Homo sapiens: one gene and its partner. The protein of the gene in region 1 interacts with the protein of each later gene in a pairwise test. Each region holds a gene or a part of one and is shown on either strand. Other genes may lie near its edges.

Evidence for each region.
Region 2: the proteins of ASL (region 1) and OVGP1 interact in a two-hybrid assay, tested with the Homo sapiens proteins (one large-scale study listed by BioGRID and IntAct).

Annotation. Positions count from the first base shown.
Region 1 is NC_000007.14:66,082,158-66,086,177, forward strand, and holds part of ASL (argininosuccinate lyase), read left to right. Parts: intron 1-210; coding exon 211-294; intron 295-722; coding exon 723-779; intron 780-919; coding exon 920-1,017; intron 1,018-4,020.
Region 2 is NC_000001.11:111,417,736-111,421,235, reverse strand, and holds part of OVGP1 (oviduct-specific glycoprotein precursor), read left to right. Parts: intron 1-1,507; exon of another isoform or gene 1,508-1,509; coding exon 1,510-1,626; exon of another isoform or gene 1,627-3,500. UniProt on the Homo sapiens protein: Binds to oocyte zona pellucida in vivo. May play a role in the fertilization process and/or early embryonic development.

The DNA of each region.
Region 1 (4,020 bases):
CTCTCCATCCTTTAATGACCCCTGTGGCCCACATGGCTCATGGGTAAAGGTGTGCTGGGCCTGAGATGCCCCCTCCCAGGGTGCGCTTCCAGGACTCAGCTCCTGGGCAGGGACAGTCAGTCACCAGGGATAGGGTGGGACCAAGGCAGGGGCTCTCTTGGCTGCTGATGCCTGCTCACCTGACCCCGGCATTGCTGCTACCCACTACAGGTGGCTGAGGAGTGGGCCCAGGGCACCTTCAAACTGAACTCCAATGATGAGGACATCCACACAGCCAATGAGCGCCGCCTGAAGGTACGACCCCTGGAGCCCCACCGCTTTCCTTGCCTCCCCTCTCCACCTTGCCCAGGGCCACTTTGAGCATTAGCACCATTCTGTTTACTTCGCCATTGGCAGACAGCATGTGAGACCTCAGGACATGAGCCAGGCACCCTGGCTCATGCCTATAATCCTAGCACTTTGGGAGGCTGAGGTGGGAGGATTGCTTGAGACCAGGAGTTCGAGACCAGCCTGGGCAACATAATGAGGTCCCACAGCTACAAAAATTAAAAAAAGAAAAGAAAAAAAGAACAGGCCTCAGCAGAAATGGCGAGAGATTTGGGGAGGACCCGGAGCCCTGGGGTATGGAGGTAGGTTGGCAGGGCTGATGAGGAAAACTGCCCTGCCTGGGTTGACTCCTCTGGGGGTATAGACCGTGACCCTGGGTCTCCCTTCACCTCCAGGAGCTCATTGGTGCAACGGCAGGGAAGCTGCACACGGGACGGAGCCGGAATGACCAGGTGCTTTAGCCCCTCCACCCCCTGCTCCGTGTTGTCCCAACCTTGAGGAGCCCAGGGGGCAGTTAGAGTTCTGCAGCGGTCCTGGCTCCTCAGGGAAGCAACACATCGGCCTCCCTGAGCACCATCTCCTCCTTGCACAGGTGGTCACAGACCTCAGGCTGTGGATGCGGCAGACCTGCTCCACGCTCTCGGGCCTCCTCTGGGAGCTCATTAGGACCATGGTGGATCGGGCAGAGGCGTGAGTCCTACAGGGACACCCAGGGGGCAGACAGAGGTGTGATGGAAGCCTGAACAGGAGACCTAGGGGGCAGGGGTGAACAGCGTGGGGGTGCCAGGCCCTGGGGGACAGGGGCATCCCAGAACTCCAGGATCGAGGCAGAGCAGCCAGGAGTGGGCCATTTCCTGCAGGCCCCAATACTCCCATGCCAGTCTAGCTCAGCAGGCAGAGAAGACTAACCCTTCGTGGGGCTGGGTGCGGTGGCTCACGCCTGTAATCTCAGCACTTTGGGAGGCCGAGGTGGGTGGATCACCTGAGGTCAGGAGTTCGAGACCAGCCTGGCCAACATGGGAAAACTCTGTCTCTACTAAAAATACAAAAATTAGGCAATGTGGTGGTGTGCGCCTGTAATCCCAGCTACTCGGGAGCCTGAGGCAGAAGAACTGCTTGAACCCGGGAGGAGGAGGTTGCAATGAGCCGAGATCGCGCCATTGCACTCCAGCCTGGGCTACAGAGCGAGACTCCTGTCTCAAAAAAAAAGAAAAAAAAAAAAGAAAACTCACCATTTGCAGATTTGAAGGCAGGAAGCTAAGCCAAGCACAGCTAGCTTGGCTGTGCCTGGAGCAGCCAGAGTCACTCCCCACACTGCCTGTCCCCCAGATCCCCCATCCTAAGCTTCGCCTCCCCATCCAGCCCATCTGGCAAAAGACAGAGCCAAAGGCTGCCTCCTGCTGGCCTCATTTCAGGCTTTGGCTTCTGGGACCTGGTGTCTTTGGGACTGGATTTGTTCCTTGCAGACCTGGACGAAGAGCTGCTGAGAAGTCTCCATGTGTTGTCAGAGACCCCTCCTCTTCCTCAACTCCCTGTGACCCCTGTTGTGCAGACTTGGGGGAAAACAAGGGCACAAGAATTGTCACCCAGCAGGTGGTGTGGGGCTGCTAGGAGGAACAGGGAGTGTCTGCTACTGAGTTCAGGGTTTCTTTAATTTTTTGTTGTTGTTGTTTGTTGTTGTTTTTTTTTTTTTGAGACAGGGTTTTGCTCTGTCACCTAGTCTGGAGTGTAGTGGCGCTATCTGAGCTAACTGCAAACTCTGCCTCCTGGGTTCAAGTGATTCTAGTGCCTCAGCCTCCCAAGTAGCTGAGATTACAGGTGTGCACCACCATGTCCAGCTAATTTTTGTATTTTTTTCAGTAGAGATGGGTTTTGCCATGTTGACCAGGCTGGTCTTGAACTCCTGAGCTCAGGTGATCTGCCCGCGTCGGCCTGCCAAAGTGCTAGGATTACACCCATAAGCCACTGCGCTCAGCTTAATTTTTAAATTTTTAACTTTTTAAATTGTCTTTAGAGATGAGATCCTGCTCTGTCACCTAGGCTGGAGTGCAATGGCTTGGTAATAGCTCACTGCAGTCTCAAACTCCTGGACTCAAATGATCCTCCCACCTCAGCTTTCTGAGTAGCTAGGACCACAGGTGTGCACCACCTGTGAGACAGAGTCTTGCTCTGTTGCCCAGGCTGGAGTGCAGTGGCGTGATCTCCACTCACTGCAACCTCTGCCTCCCAGGTTCACGCCATTCTCCTGCCTCAGCCTCCCGAGTAGCTGGGAGTACAGGTGCCCACCACCACGCCCGGCTAATTTTTTGTATTTTTAGTAGAGACGGGGTTTCACCATGTTAGCCAGGATGGTCTCAATCTCCCGACCTCATGATCCACCCACCTCGGACTCTCAAAGTGCTGGGATTACAGGTGTGAGCCACCGTGCCCAGCCGCGAATTCTTTAAATTTTTTGTAGAAACAGGGTCTCACTATGTGGCTCAGGCTGGTCTCAAACTCCCGGCCTTAAGTGATCCTTCCCTCTTGGCCTCCCAAAGTGCTGGGATTAAAGACTTGAGCCACCGTGCCTGGCCTTGAGTACAGAATTTCTTCATGGGGTGATGAAAATGTTCTAAAATTGGTTGTGGTGATGGTTGTACAGTAAAGTGTAAACTTTAAATGAGTAAATTGTGAATGATATCTCAGTAAAGCTGGTTTATTTAAAACAACAGGCCAGGTGCTGTGGCTCACGCCTGTAATCCCAGCACTTTGGAAGGCTGAGGCGGGTGAATCACCTGAGGTCAAGAGTTCGAGACCAGCCTGGCCAACATGGTGAAACCCCATCTCTACTAAAAATACACAAAATTAGCTGGGTGTGATGGTGGGCACCTGTAGTCCCAGCTACTTGGGAGGCAGGAGAATCTCTTGGACCTGGGAGGTGGAGGTTGTAGTGAGCCGAGATCACGCCACTGCATTCCAGCCTGGGCAACAAGAGCGAAACTCTTTCTCAAAAACAACAACAACAAAAAAACAGGCCAGGTATGGTGGCTCATATCTGTAATCCCAGCCCTTTGGGAGGCCAAGGCAGGAGGACTGCCTGAAACCAGGAGTTTCAGACCACTCTGGGCAACATAGCAAGACCCCATCTTTTTTTTTTTTTTTGAGACGGAGTCTCGCTCTGTCGCCCAGGCTGAAGTGCAATGGTGCAATCTCAACTCACTGCAAGCTCTGCCTCCTGGGTTCATGCCATTCTCCTGCCTCAGCCCTCCTGAGTAGCTGGAACTACAGGCGCCCACCACTACGCCCGGCTAATTTTTTGTATTTTTAGTATAGATGGGGTTTCACCGTGTTAGCCAGGATGGTCTCGATCTCCTGACCTTGTGATCTGCCCGCCTCGGCCTCCCAAAGTGCTGGGATTACAGGCGTGAGTTACCGCGCCTGGCCACAAGACCCCATCTTTACAAAAAACTAAAAATTAGCTGGGCATGGTGGCATGTCCCTTTAGTCCCAGCTACTCAGGAGGCTGAGACAGGAGGATCGCTTGAGCCCAGGAGATCGAGGCAGCAGTGAGCTATGATCATGCCACTGCACTCCAGTCTGGGCAACAGAACGAGACCTTGTCTCTAAAAATAAAAACAAAACAAAACAACAAGAAAACAGGACCATCACTCACAGCACCTCTGCCTCTGCCCTGCCTACTTGAATGAGGTGCAG
Region 2 (3,500 bases), on another chromosome or scaffold:
CCCACCCCCAGCTGGAGCAAAGGCCAGGACAAGGGGCAATGGCAAGGGTGAGAGCTGTAGACAGGGCAAAGAGGTGGTCTATTAGTACAAGAGAAACCCACTCTCTGGGATATTTTCTTTTTCTTTGAGGTAAGTTATTTGAGTCCTTTGTAAGGGACGAAGGACTTGGTGGAATCTGGATGGAAGGGTTTCATTGCACCCCAAAAATGATCTTATATGCTATACAGGTAAACCCTGACTTTCTGTATGGCCTAAATAAAAATCATTAATATTTGCAATATATATAATTTCAAACATATGCAAAATTAAAAGAATAGTATAGCCTCTGTACCTCCCCCACATACTACTCACTCAGCTTCAATCATTAATAATTCATGGCCAATTTTGTCTCATCTCTGCTGGCTCCCTCCCTCCCTACTACTAGATGATTTTGAAGCAATTCCAAGACATTATCTACTACAGGTTCTTTCTCTCCACTCCAGCTCTACCCTCTTCATCTTCGTCTCAACCAAGCTTGCTATTGGGTGGCGGAAAGAGACATGTTTCCAAGGGAATGTAACCACCAGAGGTGGCAATACGAGCCACATAACTGTGTGGCTGTAGTGACCTGGAAAGGTCTTATGGAGCAGGTAGAGTTTGAGCAGAGTTTGAAGCACAGGAAAATCCTGATGGACAGGAATGACTAGACGGGAAGGACTTCCCAGGTAGAGGACAGCAGGTACAGAGGGACAGGGTGAGTACTTTAGGCAGTAGTGGAGGTGCTGCAAGTCTCTCCAATCTCTGCTCTGCGCTGGATGGATGAGGGTGTTTTTCTAACCCAATGAAGCATTTTTATGAGTGCTGGCATAGTTGAAACAATGTTCTTGAAGGGCAAAGAAGCTTTGATAGACAGACCCTTTGAAGCACCAAAGGAGAAAAGGAATGGCTTAGACATTAACTTCTGCAGCACAGCTTGCGTACCTCTACTTTTTTGCAGCATATAGTTTTTAGCACAATGCTGGGCACTCAGTGGACACTCAAATGCTTAATTATTTATAGCAACCTAGTTCTCCCTGCCTTCAAGAACTTTAAATCTACTAGAAGTTCAGGTGCTAGTTTGAGAACCACCTATATGGGGCAGTCTGTGCTGGGATCTAATGAACAGGAGAGACTTGTTTATGAAAACACTTTGAATGAGATACAGATTTGGTCAAGGATCATGTATGTTACTCTTACTATTTTGGTACTGGCATTATACCCCTGGCTTGGTTTCTTAAGGATGTCATCCACTCTTTGGTTCCCTTTTTTCCATCATGGACAGTAGAGAGAGGAAAGGGTAACAGTAGGAATTTATTCAAAATAGAGAGGAACTCATTTGTGAGTGGCCTCTCCATTCTCTCTTTGGTTTACCTTCTTCTCATTCGCTGGTTAGGGATTCTTGGATTCTTTATCCTTGGGCAAGGAACAACTGTCTCTTGGTGCTTATCTCCATGGCACTTCCCAGAACTAACCTGGTGGTCCTCTTGGCAGATTTGTTCCTTTGTCTGGGGAGCGAAGAAGCACTGGATTGATTACCAGTATGTCCCGTATGCCAACAAGGGGAAAGAGTGGGTTGGCTATGACAATGCCATCAGCTTCAGTTACAAGGTGAGACCCTGGCTCTTTCATGCTCCAGCACATGGTTTCCTACCGGTTTCTATGGGGTCCTTATTTGTACAATGCATGTATGTGTATTGGGTGGAGAGTGAAAGGTGAGGATGATTAGACCAGGGGTTTCAGGCATGCCTACATTTTAGTTCTAACTGGGGCTTTATAATCCCATCTGTTCCAAGTCTCTATTCTGAAGAGAAAGAATCTAGGTTCTGAGGGAATAAATAGTTCCCTCAGTTCTTACAGCTTTTCGATGATCTTTTTGGTCTCTTCCTTTCCATTTGGACCAGCTAATTTCATAACAGATAAATACCAACACAAAGTAGATCATGGTAAGTGCTCTGTAAATATTACTGACATGTAGCAGAAATGAGGAAGTCTGGGAGGGCTTCCTGAGGGAGGTGAGCAGGAGTAGGAGAAGATTATGACATTGGGGAAAGGCTCAGTGGTGTAGAAAGCTTATAGCAGGTTCAAAGAAGAATTTGGGTGAAGCAGAGGCTTTTTATAAAGGGACTTGAATGCTGGTAAAGGTGTTCAGTCTTCATCCTGTGGGCATTTTAAGGCAAAAACAGGTTTCTACAGGTGGATGACCTTTAATTTTCAAACTTTTAGAGCCAAACTATGACCACCACCCTCCCTTCATGTAAGTGGTATTTTATGAAGTTGAATCTGGCAGGTTTTTATAGTGAACTAAAAGAGAACTGACATGCTCCAGTAGTTCCTAAACCTGCCTCTGTTTTGGAATCACCTGAGAGACTGGATACATGTAGAAATCATGGTTCCACTCCTCAATATTCAGTAGGTCTTAGAAAAACTTTGGAAACTATTTTAGAATGCCTCCATATATGATCCTTCCAAATGCTAAGTTGGCATTTTGGGAGCTCTGGGCGTGGACACAGAGGTGTCCAAGCATGAGATAATGAGGGTCTGGACTAGGGTAGTTGGAAGGAGCAGCAGTTTAAAGGTGAGAAATTGTCGGAATGTGGCAACTGCTTGGATATTGAGACTTAAATAGAGAGAATTCACAGTTCTCCTGTTAACGGTGATGCAGAAATGGCAGGTGTCGGCTGTTTTTTGGGGGAAGTTTGTGTGGGAAGCACCAGAGAGGAAGGCACTCATGAAGATTCACTGCGTAGCTCCTCTGTGCATTAACACTGGGTGAGGCCTGCTGGGGCGGAGAGAGATAAAAAAGCATGGCTTCTCCCCTCTGGGATCTTGCTCTGTGGTTTGGGAATGGGAAGACACAAACAGGAAAGATTAATGACTCAATGGATTTACCCAATTGGATGGAGTTAAGTCTATGACCCATAGGACATCAGAGAGGGGATTGATCCCTTGTGTTGGGTGAGGCCCTGGGATGAGCAGCAGAGGGTGGTCTTGCTTTGAGGTGCAGTTACTGTAACTTGCAGAACTAGGTGAGGAGACATGAAGCCAGGTTGGGGATGGTTAAGGGATTTTGACATAGAATATCAGAGCTAAAAGAGACCTTGGGGATTATTGTTGGGAGATAATTATACCCTGGATTTCTCAGAGTTCCTGCACAGTTTGAGGATTCTGGGCAAAGGAAGCAGACAAGCTTTACTAAAAATAGAGAGCTGCTTTCCTCTTTCCCCCAGAGCCATTTGTTTACCTTCAATGATTGTGAAAGTCCCCTTCCCAGGGAGGACTTGTTTACATTCCAGGTTCTCTCCTCTCTCTGGAAGGGAGGAGGGCCACATATGTCAACCATTCTATATAAGCTCTGAGTCTCATAATTTCAGAGTTCTTCTCTGTAGCGCAGACCCCACTGCATATGCAGGTGAATTGAACATCTGACCTTCATCACATTGTCCTTGGGACATGGAAACTGACTCAAGGTGCTATTCTGGCTA